2 separate regions of the Homo sapiens genome follow, and region 1 is linked to region 2. Evidence: fine-mapped QTL for protein levels in blood plasma. Region 2 holds a variant in brackets. A gene starts in the other region. All regions are shown on their forward strands.

Region 1 (12,043 bases), not on the chromosome of region 2:
ACGCCACTCTGGAGCTGTGTGCTGAGAAGAAAGGGGAACTCGGTTTCTCATTACTCTTGTGCTCAGAAACCCTGTCCCAACAGGCATCCCCCTCGCTGAGGGGGTGGGATTAATTGGCCAAATACTTGTATATGAACTTCCAGACCTGCAAGGGCCACCCTTGTTCTCCCAAACATTGCCTTCAGGAGATACTGCCCAGCCAGCAGTTCAGAGTTGGGAGAAAACCCTCGATAAACTGGCTCAGCAATTCCCCAGGAAGGCTCACCCCGCAGGCCAACGCGAAGACACGATGATCCCAAAGACCTTAGTGTCTTGGCGGGGGGAGGGGGAAGAGGTGGGGGACTTTTCCGCTTAGCTTCCCTAAGGGTTGCTACGCGACAGCTCTCGGGCTACGTCAGGGTAAAGAGGTTTGTATGGCCACACCTCGCACCGACCAACTACCCCCGAAACACCCCCTCCTCCCAAACTGCAGGGTGAGCACAGCGAGAGAAAAGGTGGCCCAAGCAGAGGCGAACAACTGCGGTTCTTAAAGCCTTGTTTGAGTTTGGGCCCGCGCCGAGCCACAGCTAGAGGTAGATCCCGCTCCTGCGCGTCCGCTATCAGCCCCAGGATTCCCAGAGAGGCCTCTCAGGCCCTTCAAGACCCCCCCTTCCGGCTTCCCGGCCTACACCTCTGAACCCTCAGGCCCCGGACAGCCTCTATCCCCGCCTTTCGCGGCCCCGGCTCACCCTCTAGCGTCTCGCACTGCACCAGGTTGAGGTAGTCGGCCTGGCTGAGCACCCCGGCCTTCAGGCCGCGCACCAGTCCCTCCAAGTAGCCATTGTCCACGTTAAAGTAAAGCTCCGGGAAGAACGACATGGCTGCTGCGGGAGCGGCGGGACCGGAGAACCAGGACCGGCCGGCACGAATCGCGACTCCCCAGGTCAGCTGACGCTGCGTCCTCAGCGGGCTGTCAAGTGCGTCAGGTGACGCGCAAGCGCCTCACGTGACCATAAGGGGGCGTGGCTCTGAGCGGTGCCCGGCTTCCGGGTGGCTGCGCGGAAGCGCGGTGCAGGCGTGGGCTGGCCCTGCGGCGCCTGCGCGCTAAAAAGAGGAAGTTTGAGGCCGGCCGCTTGGTGGCGCCTGTGGCCGCAGGGATTTGACTGGGCCTTCTCTAGCTTTCCCCGGTTTGCTGCACTTGACGCTGCAGGGCGGGCGGGGTAAAGAAGGGAGCGAGCCCTTCTCAAGCTTGGAAAGTTTCCAGACTGCTGGGCCAGCCTCCTCCCCAGAGGGAAACTGAGGTCCGATTGAGGTAGGAGAATAGGGTCTGGAGGCGGGGAACTTGAGGCCAATACGTGCTGAATTCTGAAGCTGAATCAAGGGAAAACACCAAGGTCTGGGGGCAGGGAACCGGAGGCCAACTAAGGCGAGCTTACTAAAGCTAAACCAAAAAGAAAAACCCCATCTCCCCATGTCCAAGTAACAAAGGATCAAAGGCCACTGTCCCCACAACCCTCCCCCTTCCACCACGTCTCAGTTGAAAGGGAGAGTGCCTTGGATTGGCTGCGGGCCAAGCACGGGCCATCCCTTCATCTGCATAGGGCGCCAATTCACCTTAGCCCCATTTATGCCTTGTGTTCCATTATTGGAACGCTAAGCATATGGGAGTTATTTATATCCTACTGCTCAAGGTCATGGCCAAGGTCTGATTGCAAAAATTCAAAAAGATTGCAACCTCAGGCATAAATGGATTAATTAGCCATGGACCAAACCCTTCATCCAGATAAGGGGTAACGGACAGGGACCGCAAAAGGAGTACTTAAAACCCGGAAAACTTTGTAACTGAGCCCCTTCAGCCTCTTGCTCAGGCCCACTCCCACCCTGCGTAGTGCTTTCTCGCTTTAACAAATCCCAGCTGTCTGCTTCCTTCCTGTGTGTCATTCGTTTGTTACTTTCTGGGTTTTGTTCAATTCTTTGTTCGAAACGCTAAGGACCTGAACAACGCACACTCCTGGCCTTCCCTCTGGTAACAGGATGAGGGGCAGGCTTTGCGTGGAAGTAGCAGCAAGCCCTGGAGCCTAAGGCTTATTTGTTAGCCAGGAGTGATAGCCCCTGTGCCACGCTGCGTCCTGCGTTCCCCGCACTTGCTGTACAAGATTTTCGAAAGCTGGAGTGCGGCTCTTCTCTATTTTTCCCAGGGGCACCAGGACCCCTAAAAGCGCCCGTGTATGTGCCTCCTATGATAGGGTAGCCCAGGCCCTGGGATAAGAGTATGTGTGGTTTCTTGGCTTGGTGACACTCCCACCCCCTCCATGAACCCTCCCTCCTTTGACGGCCACGTTTGAAATAACCACAGCCTTGGGGTTGGTCCCATCCTTTATTCGAGTTTCCTTGCCCCTACCCTAGCCCCGACCCTGACGTTGGCCAGCTAGGTGCGGCTGCAGGGATTCATGGCAGTACCCAGCTTGCGGCAGTAGCAGAAGGCATTGAAGAAGCGGCAGTAGCACGTGGCACATGGGTCACAGCAAGGCACCTGCTGTCCCAGGCAGGACTCATGCAGCCTTACGCAGCGACGTGAGGAGCGGGGCTCGCGGTCCTGCAGGTCTAGTACCTGCAGGGGTGGGGAACCAGCACAGGCCTCTAAAGACAGATCCAGGGATCTTACCTGTCCCAACCTGTGCAGGATGGCAGTGGAGCATGGGAAGGGGTGGTCGGTAGTGTCGTCGCTGGTGAGGGAGTTTGGAGCTGGGGAGAGGAGCTAATACCCAATGCCCCCTCCCAAGGGCCACCACCTTACCCTTTTCCCTGAGCAGTTACCTCTGCCAAGGCCTGAGCCTCCTGCAACAGATCCTCTTCTGCCTGTTCTGCAGTTGTCTTCTTCAGTGGGGCCCGCAGGCCCAGGCCTGGGGCAGAGGATGTGAGGGCAGGAACCCCCATGCACAAAGCACCCACCTCCCAGGGGAGGGTTTGGGAAGGGAGAAAGAGGGTTTATGCCAGGGGAGACTATTTGTGGCCAGAGGGTATTCAGGCCCCGCCCAGTCCCACCCTTGCTCACACTGACCTGGGAGCTCTGGGAGCAGGGCCTGGTCAGGCCTTCTGATGCCCTCCATGGGGGCCAAGCCCATCTGGGCTCCTCGCGTGGCAGGCAGTGCCAGCAGCAGGGCACAGCTCAGCACCGCTGCGGTCAGCATGGCCTGGCTCAGCAGGAAGATGTACCACTTAGTCCCTCCTTATCCTTGGAGTCCCCTCTAGGTGCCCAGATAGAGACCCCACAGAGAGGAGGAGTCCCTGCCCAACCTGAGGACTCACCTCTGCCTCCGGGATTCTTGCCTAGAGAGTTCCCGGCCACCCCGTGCCCTTGGCTTATATGGCAGGGCCTAATGAAGGGCCACACGTGACTGATCCCTGCAGCCAGGCCGTGAAGGACCCTTCCTGGAGGGTGGGGGCACAGTTCAGGCCCTCACTCCCTGAACCTGAGCCTTTTGTTCTACAAGAGGAGTGCCTATCTCCAATTTGGGGTGAGGTTTCCAGGAGCCGATTAAAATTTGGGAGCAAGAGAGGGTGCCCAGGGTCCACAAATTTCCACAGGACAGGGACCTAGGAGCTGAGCAGGGCTAGAACCATTAGCAATAACAAGGCAGGCGGCCCTGAAAGCTTAATTTAATTTGTGGCCCCAGAGATGCTTACTCAACCCCTATGTGGCATGTTGTTTCCTGTGCTTCCAAGAATTCGGGTCAAGGACATTGGAGCGGGTGATGGGCCAATGGCCACTGTTGGGCAGGGGTAGGTGCAGAACCAGAACCTGGGTTTCTTTGGAGGGAAAGGGGAAGGAAAAGCCCACCTAACCAATCCTAGGCCCTCCTGACTACATTTCTGGTCCTCCCCTCCCTTTCTCCCTCCAGGTTTCTCCAAGACCGCCCACTCCTGCTCCTGTCCCCAAACCCCTTTCTGCCTAGGGTTCCTGGAAGCCAAGGAAACAGAACGAACTGTTCCCTGGGTGGGCGAGCCACTGCAGAGTACAAAGCTTTCAGGCCGCCTGCCTCATTAGCACTAATGGCTGCTCCCTTCCGCCCTGTGTCGTCAGGACTGTCTATGCCTGGTCTCATCAGCACAAGGCTGGGGTAAGGACTGCCCTTTTGTGGAGATGGCAGGACATACAGGACCCTGCTGCCCCTGCCTTCCCTCACCCCACTGCAGAGCTGTTTATCACACACGTGTCCATCTGGGAAAGGAATGCAGGCTGAATCAGCTTTGAGAGGATCGCAAGGCCCCAGTGCACAAACTGGGTTGGCACAAGGCAGTGGAAAAAAGATGAAGGGGGCCAGGTATGGTGGCTCACACCTGTAATTCCAGCATTTTGAGAGGCCAAGGTGGGAGGATCACAAGGCCAGGGGTTTAAGACCAGCCTGGGTATCATGGTGAGACCCCGTTGCTACAAAAAATAAAAAAATAGCTGGGTGTAGTGGTGCATGCCTGTAGTAGAGGCTGAGGTGGGAGGATGGCTTGAGCACAGGGATTCAAGAGTGCAGTGAGCTATGACTGCATCACCACACTCCAGGCTGAGCGACAGAGCAAGATCCTGTCTCAAAAAGAAAAGAAGATAAAGGGTGGCCAGGCACGGTGGCTCACGCCTGTAATCCCAGCATTTTGGGAGGCCAAGGTGGGCGGATCACTGGAGGTCAGGAGTTCAAACCAGCTTGGCCAATATGGTGAAACCCTATCTCTACTAAAAATACAAAAGTTATTCAGGCATGGTGGCACATGCCTGTAATCCCACCTACCCGGGAGGCTGAGGCAGGAGAATCACTTGTAACACGGGAGGCAGAGACTGCAGTGAGCAGAGATCGCACCACTGCACTCCAACCTGGGTGACAGAGTGAGACTCCATCTTAAAAAAAAAATGCTATTTAAAATGAAATGAAGCAATCCATACTCCCAACATTTATATATACTGGGACATCCAAGAAATTAAAATCACACCTCATTATGTCTTTTTCTTTGAGTCAGGGTCTCACTCTGTCACCCAGGCTGGGCCTGGTCAGCACCCATGCTATGGAGAGCTCTTCATGGTCTGGTGTGGACAGAGTGGGAGTGGAAGATCTCCTCCCACACAGGTGCTCAGTGTCTTACCTCACCTACGGGCAGCAGCTGTCTTCACCTGAGTGTGTGCACACAGGTGTATCAGCCCCATGGGCAGTGATGGACGAGGGCTGAGGCACTCACAGGGCAGCCCATGCCCCGGTCAGGTCCAGTGGGGGAGATATCAAGAAAACCCAGCGCCAAAATGCAATGAGCTGTGATCGCGCTACTGCACTCCAGCCTGGGCGACAAAGCAAGTTGCCGTCTCAAAAAACAAAAACAAAACTAAACAAAAAAAAAAAAACGGCCAGGTGTAGTGATTCACACCTTCTTGAGCCCAGGAGTGGCAACATAGTGAGACTCTGTCTCTACCAAAAAAAAAAAATTTAATTAGCTGAATGTGGTGATGCACACCTGTAGTCCCAGCTACTCAGGAGACAGGGAGGAGGATAGCTTCGGCCCAGGAGATTGAGGCTGCAGTGAGCCATGGTGGTGGTGGCTCACGCCTATAATCCCAGCACTTTGGGAGGCTGAGGCAGGCAGATCACTTGAGCCTAGGAATTCGAGGCCAGCCTGGGCAACATGGCGAAACCCAGTCCCCATTAAAAAAAAAAAAAAAAAAGGCCAGGTGCGGTGGCTCACGCCTGTAATCCCAGCACTTTGGGAGGCCGAGGTGGGCAGATCACAAGGTCAGGAGATGGAGACTATCCTGCCTAGCACAGCAAAACCCCATCTCTACTAAAAATACAAAAAAAAAAAAAATTTAGCCGGGCGTCATAGCGGGCACCTGTAATCACAGCTACTTGGGAGGCTGAGGCAGGAGAATGGTGTGAACCCAGGAGGCAGAGCTTGCGGTGAGCCGAGATCGCGCCACTGCACTCCAGCCTGGGTGACTGAGCGAGACTCTCTCAAAAAAAAAAAAAAAAGTTTCACAGCCGGATGCAGTGGCTCACGCCTGTAATCCCAGCATTTTGGGAGGCCAAGGTGGGCAGATCATGAGGTCAGGAGTTCAAGACCAGCCTGGCCAACATGGTGAAGCCCCATCTCTACTAAAAATACAAAAATTAGCTGGGCATGGTGGCACGCACCTATGATCCTAGATACTTGGGAGGCTGAGGCAGGAGATTTACTTGAACTGGGACCCAGGAGGCGGAGGTTGCAGTTAGCTGAGATCGTGCCACTGCACTCCAGCCTGGTAACACTCCAGCCTGGTAACAGAGTGAGACTCCATCTCAAAAAAAAAAAAGTTTCACTATGTGGGTAATTTTACGGTAAGGAACCAGCCTGATATTCCCAGGACAATGCTTGTTGGCAAAAGGACCTTCAGAAATATGTGGCATGTTCTGGGAGGAGGATTTGGGAAACCCTGGGGGAGGCAGAGCCTCCTAAGTGAGGGTGTGGGCCCGGAACACAGGGACTCTGTGCAGGGAGGAGAAAGGGGAGAGTGTGCATGCTCGTTCCAGAGACCACATGAGGACAGAGAGGGGTGCTCAAACCCTCTCCCTTCTCTTCTTTTTCCTCCTGCAGTGTACTCCCCTTCAAGGGCCCTGTTCCCACCTTGTCCAGGGGAGAGGGTGGGGGGTGCAGGGAAAAACTGCAAGCACCCGTGGCTCTGTCAATCAGGGTTGATTTTGAAACCCCTACCCAGCCCATTGCCCCTGCCCCAGAGAGCACAGCCATGTGTTTCCTGTGAATCATCTGTAGGATTTCCTAAGGCAGAGGTTGCCTGGAGAGGCACGGTCTCCTCAGTCATTCAGGGAGAGGAGAAGATGGATGGGGGTTCTCTCGGGCTGGTGTATTGAGCCCTGAGCTAGAGAGGATCTGTGATTGTTAATTTTGTGTGTCAACTTGACTGGGCCAGGAATGCCCAGATATCTGGTTAAATATTATTTCTAGGTGTGCCTGTGAGGGTGTTTCCAGAATCATCCAATCCTTTGAGGGTTGGAATAAAACAAAAAGATAGAGAAAGTTGGTGCCGTGGCTCATGCCTGTAATCCCACCACTTTGGGAAGCCGAGGTGGGAGACTGTCTTGAGCCCAGGAGTTTGAGACCAGCCTGGGTAACATACAGAGACCCAATCTCTACAAAAAAATTTAAAAATAGCCAGACACAGTGGTGCACATCAGTGGTCCCAGTGACTCCAGAGGCTGAGGTGGGGAGGATCGCTTGATCCCAGGAGGTTAAAGCTGTAGTGAGCCATGATCACACTACTGCATTCCAGCTTATGCACATGAGACCTTGTCTTAAAAAAATAAAAAATTTTAAAAAAGAAAGAAAACTGGAAACAATCCAAATATCCATCAACAGCAAAATGGATAATAACATTATAGTGATATAATTGGGCCAGGCACAGTGGCTCACACCTGTAATCCTGGCACTTTGGAAGGCCGAGACGAGTGGATCACTTGAGCTCAGGAGTTCCAGACCAGCCTGAGCAACATGACAAAACCCTGTCTCTTCAAAAATTACAAAAATTAGCTAGACATGGTGGCGCAAGCCTGTAGTCCCAGCTTCTCGAGAGGCTGAGGTGGGAGGATCACTTGAATCCAGGAGGCAGAGGTTGCAGTGAACCAAGATTGCACCACTGCACTCCAGCATGGGTGACAGAGTGAGACCCTATCTCAAACAAACAAACAAAAGTATGTTTATATAATTGACAACTATACAGCAATGACAAGAGAATAAACTACTGCTACACACTGCAACATGAATGAATTGCACAGACATAAGGTTGAATGAAAGAAGCATGCTGCAGAAGAGTGAGGATGGAATGAATCCAGCCCTATGACATTCAGACCCAAGCAAAATTATAATAAATGGTGATAAAACACAACAGCGGTTAACTCTGGGAGGGTGGGAAATTATTGACTGAGGGGGGAAATGAGGAAAACATGTGAGGTGTTGGAAAGGTTTTGTATCTTGATCTCAGTGGTGGTCACGCAGGTATATAAGTATGTAAAATTTCATCAAGCTGCACATTTAAGACTTGTGTATTTTGCCAAGTGCAGTGGCTCACACCTGTAATCCCAGCACTTTGGGAGGCCAAAGTGGGCAGATCACCTGAGATCAGGAGTTCGAGACCAGCCTGGCCAATATGGCAAAACCTCGTCTCCACTAAAAATAAAAAATTAGCCAGATGTGGTGGTGTGTGCCTGTAGTCCCAGCTACTCAGGAGGTTCAGGCAGGAGAATCACTTGAACCCAGGAGGCGGAGGTTGCAGTCAGCCAAGATTGTGCCACTGCACTCCAGCCTGGGTGACAGAGTAAGACTCCATCTCAAAATATATATATATATTGTATTTTTTATTGGATATTATGTCTCAATGAAAACATTTTTTCTTTTCCTTTATTAGTGGCTCAAAAAATAATGGAGTGTCTGGCTGGACGCTGTGGCTCCCGCCTGTAATCCCAGCACTTTGGGAGGCCGAGGCGGGTGGATCACAAGGTCAGGTCAGGAGTTCGAGACCAGCCTGACCAACATGGTGAAACTCCATCTCTACTAAAAATACAAAAATTAGCCAGGCACGGTGGCACGTGCCTGTAATTCCAGCTACTCAGGAGGCTGAGGCAGGAGAATTGCTTGAACCCTGGAGGCGGAGGGTTGCGGTGAGCCGAGATTGCATCACTGCACTCCAGCCTGGGTGACAGAGCGAGACTCCGTCTCAAAAAAAAAAAAGAAAAAGAAAGAAAGAAACTTCCCTCATCTCTGTAGCTATTTGTGTAACTTCCCCTATCTGTGTAACTACTGTTAACTGTGCAGCTGTGGGCATGTCTTTAGGAAAGCATATGTAGCTTCTCTTGTCTCTGTAGTTGCAGGTATGTTTTAGGTAAGTCTCCCCATCCCCCTCCCTGTGCAAGTTCCCACAGAGCTCACCATTTGCATGCCTGAAAAGGGGAGGAAACATTTTCCTGGGAGCCTGCTGATTATGCAAAGAACAAAGGCCTCTATCCTGGGCCTTGCTCCCTTATCTGTGCAGCTGCAGCTTGATTTTTCCCCAGGCTGCTCTATCTGTGCCTGTAGCTTTGATTTTTCAAAAGAATTTTACCAAGGACTAGCCATAGCTGTCTGCCCAACTGCTTTATTCCTTTTCTCCTCCCTCAGCATCCTATAGGAGAAAGTCACCTTTGTCTCCAAATTCCCTGGTCCTGGTTTTGAAAATCCTGCTGGCACCTACTGCTGAAGGCTGTGGCTGGAGAATTCAGTGAGCTACTCTGATCTGGACAGGGTCTGATGGTCCTCACTTGACCTAAGCTGAGCTCTCCCAGGCTGTGAGCATCCCCAAGGTCAGCCTGTGACTCTCACAGAAGTTCTGACCTCCAGAGCCTTCCCCCTGCTGTGGCCTTTGGGGTAGAGTAGGTTACATGGGCCAGCACCATCTGCCAAAGTCAGGGCCAGAAACCTATCCATGGGAGCCAGATTTGGCTTTTGGCTTGGGCTAGTATTGACTTTGGGCACATTCTCATCCCAGAAAGAATAATTTGGGGTATGGGATTTCATGTTTTCTTTAGTACAGCCTTGAAAGCCACGTGTACAGGGTGTTTTCTTGCTAAGATAGCAGTCGGGCTATATTTGAGCAGTCCAGAGAAGTTTAAACTACAGAGGCATCTGGATATTGTCACAGTCTTGTCTGAGGTCAATAGCTTGCAAGCGGTAGAGCTGAGAGTCATACTGGGGAGTCTGACCCTGTAATGACCCCCTGGTCACTATGCTCAGAAATAATGACACCTGGAGTTGTATTTTTCAGCACAGATTGACTTTGAATAATAAATACGTAAGAATATTTCTTCAATTACACACACACACACACACACACACACACACACACACACACACACACATACATACACAATTATGCCATTTCTCATCTTCCCTGAAGCACATGGCCCTTTGGCCTCTCTTTTATTTTCATACTTTTTTTTTTTTTTGAGATGAAGTCTGGCTCTGTCGCCCAGGTGGAGTGCAGTGGCACAGTCTCAGCTCACTGCAACCCCTCCTGGGTTCAAGCAGTTCTCCTGCCTCAGCCTCCCAGGTAGCTGGGATTACAGGCGTGTGTCACCACACCCAGCTAATTTTTGTATTTTTAGTGTAGACGGGGTTTCACCACGTTGGCCAGGCTGGTCTTGAACTTCAGGTGACTTCAGGTGATCCACCTGCCTCGGCCTCTCAAAGTGGTAGGATTACAGCCATGAGCTACCATGCCCGGCCTGTCATACTTTTTTTCGGAAACAAAAGATTAGTTCTGTATTTCAACATTAACAATGACCACACTCTGACTCAATATTGGGGAAGTTTTGAAACCAACCCAATAGTCCCATAGACAGCTTTTTTGGATAAACATAGAAATCAACCCTTCTGATCCTAAAGCTTGAAACTTACATTTGTTTTATCTGAGTTCCCCTCTCAGGAAAGGATCCCCAGTCCTCTCAAAAAGTATCAAAGAACTGAAACCCACCAGATCATCCCATCCAGACAATGAGACTCAAGGGCCCTCATTCATCATGATTTGCTTCCTTACCCCTTGCATTTGTTTTCCCACACACAATTACATTTCTTCCCTGCTATATAAACTCCTAATTTTAGTCCATCAGGGAGATGGATTTGAGACCGATCTCCCGTCTTCTCACCTGCATCACCCGATTAAAGCCTTCTTCCTTGGCAATAATTGTCTCAGTGATTGGCTTTCTGTGTGGTGAGCAGCATGACCTAGACCAAACCTGTGGTATTTTAATAACAGTTTGAAGAGTGTGAGTTTGGCCTGAAGGGAGAAGCCATTGATGGCAGGCAGAGATGTAGGCCCAGGTTTGCCAGAGCTTCAGACTTTTTTTTTTTTTTAAGATGGAATCTCGCTCTGTTGCCCAGGCTGGAGCACAATGGCGTGATCTTGGCTCACTGCAACCTCCACCTCCTGGGTTCAGGCAATTCTCCTGCCTCAGTCTCCCGAGTAGCTGGGATTACAGGCATGTGCCACCACACCCAGCTAAGAGCTTCAGGTTTTTAAAGAAAAGAGAGAAAACAGAAGTTTTTTTTTTTTTTTTTGAGACGGAGTCTCACTCTGTCGCCCAGGCTGGAGTGCAGTGGTGCGATCTCGGCTCACTGCAAGCTCTGTCTCCCAGGTTCACGCCATTCTCCTGCCTCAGCCTCCCGAGTAGCTGTTCTACAGGCGCCCACCACCACACCCGGCTAATTTTTTGAATTTTTAGTAGAGACAGGGTTTCACCGTGTTAGCCAGGATGGTCTCAATCTCCTGACCTCATGATCTGCCTGCCTTGACCTCCCAAAGTGCTGGGGTTACAGGCGTGAGCCAAGAAAACAGAACTTTTAAATGATGTTTACATGTCTAGCTTCAAAAAATGCCATGCAGGTTGTCGGTTTCCCACTTCCAGGGTAACTGGATGGAATTTCTGCCTTCATGGTGGTTCAAGCCTGAAGTGCCTTGAGACCAGAAGTAAAGAGTTCCTTCCTCCTGCAGCACTGCTAGGTTTCCTGGAGGAGACGGTCTGTAGGTGGGGTTCCTAAAGGTGGAGAGAAGAGGAAGTTACTTCCTAAAGAGAAGGAAGATAGGGGGTAACTTCAGTGTGGCTTTTGCAGAGTTGTTCATGACAGGAATCCTATCAGGCCCTGAAGTTTCCATCAGCACAGCCCCCAACCCTCACTGTCCCACACCCTTAGCTTCCTGGTTCTAGTCTCAAGGGATTCTGCTCACTTCTGTCCTCGCTTTTTTTCTCCCTGGGAACCAAGTAACAGCTGAAGAAGTCCCAGGAGTCCTCCCATGTCCTCTCAGCAACCCAGGCTGGAGCCTACTCCTTGGTGTTGGCAAAGGAAACCGTCTTTGAAGGTGAGACCTTTTTTTTTTTTTTTTTTTGAGACGGAGTCTCCCTCTGTTGCCCAGGCTGGAGTGCAGTGGCGCAATCTCAGCTCGCTGCAACCTCCCCCTCCTGAATTCAAGCAATCCTCCTGCCTCAGCCTCCTGAGTAGCTGGGATTAC
Region 2 (8,000 bases):
ACTTTATGAAATGAGAAAGGAGCTGAAAGATAATTCAAGAGAAGGGTATGAAACTGAAGAATGCCTTGTCATCAAAGGGCAGGAAGTACCTTAGCTGGGTTATCCCAGTCTGGCACCTGGTCCTCAGTCTTCAAGTTCAGAAACTCAGGTCATCATTTCCTAGGAACTGGGTGGATTCTGGGAGATTGCCTCACACCAACCAAACTCACAAGAGATTCAGTAATAAGCCAGAGTGCCATTTTTTTTCCTTCACAATGGAAAATGAACCTGATACTGCAGTTTATCTTAACAGAGCACACCTACACTATGGGGAAGTCTACTTAAGAGACCAAATGATAGATCAGAGGGTTGTCTGGTAAACTTAGATTCCCAAGTCAGCTGGAAACATACCTAGAGATAATCTCTTAGGGTAGAATAGTTGCCTGTGAGAAGTTTGCCCAAAGTACTGAAGCTTTATAGTTTGAATGAGTCATTTGCTAACCTGAGTCTCCAAACACCTTACTCTCGCCCTCACTTACAGAAATTAGAGATACAGGTATGGAAGTTAGTCCCACATGATAGTAAGATGCCAAAGAATCTGATATGGAGAGATGTCTGAAAGCAGAACTCTCAGAAACAAATTTAGTAAGAGGGGAGGAGGCAAAGTGTCCAAATAAGAAATATTCAAAGTGAAGGGAAAACCAAGGGTACAGTATCTCGAGAGCCAAAAGAAGGGTTAAGAAGAGATGGTCCACTATCAAATGTGACAGAAATAGATAACACTTTCCAAGTGGAAAATCACTTGTGACCTTTGAGAGTAGTTTAACAGAGCAACGAGAGTAGATGTCTGATTGCTAAATCATCTCTAACTCATTCTTCAGAGTTAAGTTTGCAACACAGCCGGACGCGGTAGCTCACGCCTGTAATCCTAGCACTTTGGGAGGCCAAGGCTGGCGGATTGCCTGAGCTCAGGAGTTCGAGACCAGCCTGGGCAACACGGTGAAACCCCGTCTCTACTAAAATACAAAAGAAATTAGCTGGGTGTGGCGGCGTGCGCCTGTAGTCCCCGCTACTCGGGAGGCTGAGGCAGAATTGCTTAAACCCGGGAGGCAAAGGTTGCAATAAGCCAAGATCACACCACTGCACTCCAGCCTGGGCAACAGCGCGAGACTCTGTCTCTACCAAAAAAAAAAAAAAAAAAAGTTTGCAACACAAAGCAATAAGGTTTGTGATAACATCTTAATCAATGAACTGGTCTTTATTGAACAAATACCCTGCAGTCTGCACCACAGGAGTCACCTTTTGTTTATGAGAGGCAGGAGACTACAGTGCAAAGAACACTGGCTGGGAAGTCCAGGGCCCAAGCAGCAGAGTGTTCACTGGTCCTTAACTTTCAGAAGAACTGCAGAGAGCCTCCTTTCTCTCTGGATGAATGTGTTTCAACATTTCTAACTGAGAGTAGGGCTAACTGATCAGGTACCCCCACTGGCTCTAACCTCACAGCTCTAGCATTTGCAGTTCCCTCTGCCAGGAAATCTCTTCCCCCAGATACCCACACAGCTCACTCCCTGACCTCCTCCTCAGCTTTGCCCAAATGTCAAATTATCACCTTCTTGTTCAGAAGATCTTCCCTACTCCCCATTTCCTTGCACAACCCAGCCCCATTCCCTGCTTTACATTCCTCCATGACACTAATCACCATCTGATGTACTGTTTTCCT[G/C]ATCTGTTTATTGTCATTTTTCCCCACTAGACTTCAAGTTCCATGAAAGAGATTTATTTTGTCCTCTGTTCTGTGGTGTGCTTGGCATAAAGTAGATAAGCAAGCATCTGCTGAAGGAATGAATTAAATGCCAGCTGCAATCCCCAAATTACAGTAGATACACGGGAAAATTTTCTTTAGGAGGCTGAATTCTAACAGCATGATATCAAACAAGGATAGGGTCAATACAGAGGCCAGTGCTGTTTGAAAGTCATCATTTCAATGGTAACTCCTTCACTTGTGCTGGACTCGGTCTCCCCTCAGGAGACTCCTTTCCTGTTCAAAGTCAGTATTTTATATACTCAAAACCAACAACAAACTCCAGGTGTAACTTTATTCCACCTTCTCCAACTTCAGAGTTCCAACCTTAGAGGATAGAGCATTATGTGGAAGGAGGGTGAGGACTTGATATGAAAAAAGTGATGACATACCCCTGGTTCATTTCTGGGTTTCCTCCTAGGCCAATTCAAAACTTCCAAAATAAGGTCAAGTAACACAATAGGCTCACACTTGCATCACAAGCTGTTTAGAAAGTGTGCACAGATCTCTGACTCAGACCAGATGTCCTCCCCACCATGGGCAAGGGCTGGTGGGAAAGACACTCCCAGCCTTCGCCTTCATCCAATACTAATAAATAACCTACAGAAAGAGCAGCGCTGGAGGCTGGCCCTTGAGCCACCCACTGCTACCGTTGCGGAGCCAGGCCTGCCTCATAGCCCTCTGTCTTCATGTCATTGAGCCCTAGCTCCTCATTTTGGTCAAAGGTGCGCTTGTAACGCTCCACCTTCATCTCAGGATCATCTTCAGGCGCATACACATTCTGCAAGGTCAAGGAGAGACAATCAGTGCCGCTGTGCCACTCCCCCTCTCTGCAGGCAGCTTCCAATTCCCACCTTCCCAAGAACAGAATGAGTTTTGGGTTTTTTTCTTTTTATTGGCCTCCAATTTCCCATGGCTAGACTGAACTAGTGGGTAGCAACAGAGCCCACATGGGCCAGGGGTAGAAGACCCCAGCCCCAGAATCAGGGAACAATCCACCTATTTTGTTATATCTGCACCTTCTTATGAAAAGTATGACAAATGGTCTTAATCTTGGAAAGAACTTAGAAGAGTTTTGCCTGACCCATGGTAAGTATCCAATAAATGGTAAAGGTACATCAATCACCAGACTCTCTCCTCAGTCAACTTAAAGCCTATCAGTTTCCTATCTTGGCCTCCGGACAAGGTACCATTTCTCCTCAATCCATAATCAGATTTGCAAAATGAAAACTCCAGAACTGGGACAAGAGCTTGACTACAGAAAAAAAAGGGGCCTCAGAGTATCCTTTTTTTTTCCTTCTTTACATACACTTAAAAAAAAAATCCCCTCCCACACCCCCCTCTTTTCTCCCTTATGTATCTTCTAACTTCTGCCTCCTTGGTAAAAAGCAGTCCATTTAGAATCAAGTCTTTCAGTTTCTAGGGAAATGATACATATTCAAGGAAGATCAGAAAATGTATCTCTATGAAACATCAGGGAAGGTCTACTATACCTGCAAGTAACTGTTTCCTGCTGGATCATCCATAATAAAGTGGGCCTTCATGTTACCTTCGATGATCTAAAGGAGAGAGAGAACACAGCAAGTAAATTTTACATAACCCCTGGTAAAAAGAGGCTATGTCGGGGGAGGGGGGAGGGATAGCATTAGGAGATATACCTAATGTAAATGACTAGTTAATGGGTACAGCACACCAACATGGCACATGTATACATATGTAACAAACCTGCACGTTGTGCACATGTACCCTAGAACTTAAGTATAATAAATATATATATAAATAAAAAAAGAAATGAAATAAATGAAAGTAAAGAAAAATTTTTAAAAAAAGAGGCTATGCCTGCCAGACAAGAACCAACCCAATTTATATTACAGAATCCCCAAAAGTTTTAAGAATTGGTGAAATTAGGTAGCTCTGAAAGTAGAGGGGAAAGGTTCTAAAATAAGGACTGTTAGAAAAGCCAACATCAGCAAGCTGTGGACTAGGGGGTGCTGGCCCAGTTGAAGGTAGAGGGAAAGGAATCAAGAACAAGTAGGTTAAATGAATGTAAGCTTATGGGAAACAGAATACATACACACCCCAGCCCCCTTCCCACAGCTCTCAGAACACTGCCAGCCAAGCCTTTACCCTCAGGCCAGGAAATGGAGCAGCCACAGTCATTTAACCTCCTTGTTCTTGAGTCCTTTCCCTCTACCTTCAACTGGGCCAGCACCCCCTGGTCCACAGCTTGCTGATGTTGGCTTTTCTAACAGTCCTTATTTTAGATCCTTTCCCCTCTACTTTCAGAGCTACCTAATTTCACCAATTCTTAAAACTTTGGAGGATTCTGTAATATAAATTGGGTTGGTTCTTGTCTGGCAGGCATAGCCTCTTTGTCTGACTAGCCCAAGAGGAAAGACCTAACAATTCTGGCATTGGAGGCCACCTCAGCAAAACAGCTAAGTTAAATTCCCCTGTAATAAGCCCCATGTCAACAAGGCTCACCCCCTACTCAGGTCTTTAGCCCGCTACTTGTAAGAAGACAATCAATGATTATCAGACATCTGAGCAAAGCCCTTAACACTGAAAGATGGGAAATCAAATGGGGAAAAAAAGGATGCAAGGAGAATAAAATGTCAAAAAAGATCCAACATCAGTATCAATAAGTGCTATATAAACTGCATGCTGAAAAAATTTAAAAAATAATAATCCTCAAGAAGAAAAAATACTACATCCTTAAGACAGGATGCTATTTTTTAAAAAGCTCCTTGGAAAATAAAAGTTTTAGTGGAAATGAAAACCTCAATTGAAGGGTTGGAAAATAAAGTTGAGGGAATCTCCCAAAGAAGAACAAAAAAACCAAGAAACCAAAAATAGGACCAAAAAAAGAGTAAATTATAGAAGACCAGACAAGTAAGTCTAATATCTAAAACCCAGGAGTTTTCAGAAAGAACAGAAAAAAAAAATCAGAAAAAAGATAATCTTCAATAGAATAATTCATGAAAGCTTCCTAGAACTGAACCACATGAGTTTTCCAGACTGAAAAAATACATCTACCAAGTGCTTAGCCCAGTGGATGAAAACTGACCCACACCAAGGCACACCCTGAAATTTCACATCAAAGGAAACGAAGAGATCACAAGACTAGGTCACATATAAAAGACCAGGAATCAAATGGCTTCAGACTTCTCAATAGCCAAAGTGGAAGACTATAGTACAATGTCTTTACCAAACTGGAAGACCATAGTGCAGTCTTCGAAATTCTGATAAAAAATTATTTCTATCCTAGAATCGTATTCCCAGCCAATAATCACTCTAGTGTGATAACAGAATAAAGACATGTTCAGATGTGGAAGGTCCCAGAAATTTTATTTCCCATGCACTTTTTCCCAGGAAGCTACTGGAGAAGATGCTCTAACAAAATAAGGGAGAAAAACAAGAAAGAAGACGTGGAATATAGAAAACCAGAAGAGGGCCAGGTGCGGTGGCTCACGCCTGTAATCCCAGCACTTTGGGAAGCCCAGGCAGGCAGATCACGAGGTCAGGAGTTCGAGACCAGTCTGGCCAACATAGTGAAACCCTGTCTCTACTAAAAATACAAAAAATTAGCCAGGCGTGGTGGTGTGCGCCTGTAATCCCAGCTACTCGGGAGGCTGAGGCAGCAGAATCGCATGAACCCGGGAGGCAGAGGTTGCAGTGAGCCGAGATCACGCCACTGCACTCCAGCCTGGGCAACAGAACGAGACTCTGTCTCCAAAAAAAAAAAAAAGAAAAGAAAACCAGAAGAAGAATCCCCAACATGATGGTTAGATGTTCAAAAAGTGGCAAGACATGAGCATGCAGCCTCCTGTTCACTGGAGCCCCAGGATTCTAAGTACTGACTGGCCAGTGACCTCTTACCTGGTCCATCTTCTGGCTAAACTCCTGTAGTCTCTCCGTCTGTCCAGGATTGGAACTGTCGCCCAGTGTGAAAGGATTTTTGGTCACCTGCAATAAATGATAATCCAAACTATGTGAATACTGGCTTTATATTTGTTAGGCCTGACCATAAACTAGGCAGGGGGTGACAGTGGGTGCCCTGTCAGGGAAACTTGGTTTCCATTTAGCCCACACCACCTTTCTGACCAAGGCAGTCACTCCTAGGAGTCTATGGGATAATGTGCCAAGATAACAAAACTGGCAATGTAAAACAAAATCGAAACATGTTCTTAGAATATGATCTCTGATACTAATTTGGAGAAGAAATGCAAAGAAAAAGTACAATTTACAAATACAAAATGCCCAACAGAGAATCAAGTGAAATAATTCATCAAGGAGATAAACATTTGGGCTAAGTCAACCCATACATGTATGTTTTTTATGTTGGGAAGTTTTAGGTGCTAGAAGGACCCTCATCCCCTAACTTTACAGTAAAATAAATGACTTGTCCAAGACCACAAAATAACTATAAAGTCCCAAAGTTAGGCCTGGAATTTCCATTCAACATTTCCCATAAACTTGTCTTCACCATCCAAAGTAATATTTAAGTCTCTTAAACCAGCTTTAAGGCAAAGAAACCCACAGTTACCAGCACCGAAAATTAGGATGTCTGAAGTCTTCCAGTCCCTCTTCACACAGCCAAATTGCTCAAAGGTGGTTTACACACTACTCAAGTGACTCACCAGTTCCCGGATGTCTTTCAGCAGCCCTTCCAGTGTGGTGAACTTGCCCCCGAGGACTGCCATTCCCAGTTCAAATTCTAGCTCTGGGATTTCCACACTGCAAGTCTCAGACTGTGAAATGAGAGGTCAGTTTAAGCTTTAAGTCAGAAGCAAAGAAAGCCAACCAGAGGCCTCCTGCCCAATTAATACCAGCAGTGATAGACTGCGGACAAGGGCAGCTGTCTCAGTTTTCTCTGACTCCCTTGTTAAAGCTTGAGACTCACTCCTGTCCATCTGAACCACGGGAATAGATCCAACTTAATAAAGGGAAACTCAGTCATAGCTTCGAGCTGTCAGGTATCCTGTCACTAGGGGACAGACAGAGAAGAGGACCCAGATAGACACTGGAGGCCAAAAAGCTACCAGGTCATCAGAAAGAGCTAACAGGGTCACCTTCTAAACCTGCAATTCCAATCTTAGATTAACTCCCTCTGCTCAGGGGTCCTCAAAGCCAGGGAAGTAGGAGATACCTCATGTCCCTGAACATTATTTCTAAAAGACAACTTCCCCTAGATAGAGACAGTTTATCTAACTTATGAGGACAACAGTGACTTTCCCAAGCAGACTGTTACCTTGAGGAGGTCTCTGGTCATATCTGAGGCATCTGTGATGTGGAGGGTGATCCTGGTGCCCAAGGGTTCTACTGCTCCTCCAGATTTCACCTGCATCGATAACAGTCAGGAGCAACAGAGAGAAGACCTGAGCCTCACTTGGTACCCAGGAGACCTGGAGTGTAGGCTTGGACATCCAATCAGTTAGGGCCATTAATAGCTACCAAAGAAAGAGCCTTCTAAACAGCAGTCGCCCAAACCAAAAACACCAAGAGCTGGCCAGGAACAGTGCCCAACCCTGGTAACGTGCCAAAACTTATCCCAAATTGCCAATAAACTCTGAATTTACCTTAAAAAAAAAAAAAAAAAAAAGACTTTTGGGGTTGAAAGAGACTTTTAAGCATTTATTGCAGTCCTTTCATCCACTGCATCCAATGTGTGGGTCTCCTTTATAATATTCTGGTTAAAGAATTTAATTAGCTTATACTCAGATACACTCAGGGGAAGGGAATTTATAATTCTCTAAGGCAGCTCATTCTATTTTCAGACAGCTCTATTGAGTTCTTCATTGTGAAGTCAAAGTCTGCCTCCCTGAACTTCCACACCTCTGAGGAGTGGGTCAAAAGACTTCTCTCTTCCATATCATCAACCTTTAATATGTCTTAAACAAGTTATAGAATCTCTAACTTTTCTTCTCTAGGCTAATTCCCATTCCTTCAAGGGCTCATCACCCTGCACTAGACCTAAGAAAAAGACCCAAGCTACTCTACACCCCCTGCCCCCGAGTACTGAAGTACTTAGGAAGAATGATAGTTAAAAGGGGGTTACCCTTAAGCTAGTCTTCTTCCCAAATAATGGCGCCCACCCACCTCATTGGTCCGATGCCCACAGTTCTCGCAGTTGGTAGCCATGATGATAACCTCCTTAAAGTGAGGGATTTCTGGAAAACGGAGTTAAGGAAATCTACTTCCAGGCGAACAAGACCACCATCTG

Which allele goes with the higher level. Alleles are on the strand shown, and positions count from the first base shown. The strength of an association depends on the size of the effect and on how common the allele is.
In carriers of allele G in region 2, the plasma level of the protein whose gene starts at base 3,319 in region 1 tends to be higher than with C alone (moderate association).

What was found. A credible set is the group of variants that fine-mapping cannot tell apart. PIP is the posterior inclusion probability: the model's chance that the variant is causal. Protein levels are from antibody-based Olink assays in UK Biobank. Linkage for the fine-mapping came from a reference panel and not from the study's own genotypes, which makes the PIPs less certain.
Region 1: it holds the start of AGRP, and the variant in region 2 is the best candidate, but not a certain one, in a credible set for the plasma level of the AGRP protein (UK Biobank, PIP 0.83).

Annotation. Positions count from the first base shown.
Region 1 is chr16:67,480,229-67,492,271 of GRCh38, forward strand. It overlaps AGRP (agouti related neuropeptide), which reads right to left and starts at 3,319. Exons shown (of 4, transcript NM_001138.2): 1 at 3,289-3,319; 2 at 3,041-3,173; 3 at 2,797-2,882; 4 at 2,343-2,590. The coding sequence starts at 3,170. The coding sequence ends at 2,408. ATP6V0D1 (ATPase H+ transporting V0 subunit d1) reads right to left here and starts at 929. Exons shown (of 8, transcript NM_004691.5): 1 at 729-929. The coding sequence starts at 858. It overlaps ATP6V0D1-DT (ATP6V0D1 divergent transcript), which reads left to right and starts at 1,166. Exons shown (of 4, transcript NR_184227.1): 1 at 1,166-1,291; 2 at 3,882-4,100; 3 at 11,797-11,893. RefSeq lists enhancers at 480-719, 880-929, 8,492-8,571 and a silencer at 1,040-1,209.
Region 2 is chr11:116,776,502-116,784,501 of GRCh38, forward strand. ZPR1 (ZPR1 zinc finger) reads right to left here. Exons shown (of 14, transcript NM_003904.5): 9 at 7,877-7,947; 10 at 7,029-7,118; 11 at 6,418-6,528; 12 at 5,657-5,743; 13 at 3,271-3,336; 14 at 1-2,558. The coding sequence ends at 2,424. Among named protein-coding and RNA genes, the nearest start is that of BUD13-DT, 7.0 kb to the left of the region's middle. The variant G/C (reference allele first, on the strand shown) is at 1,700.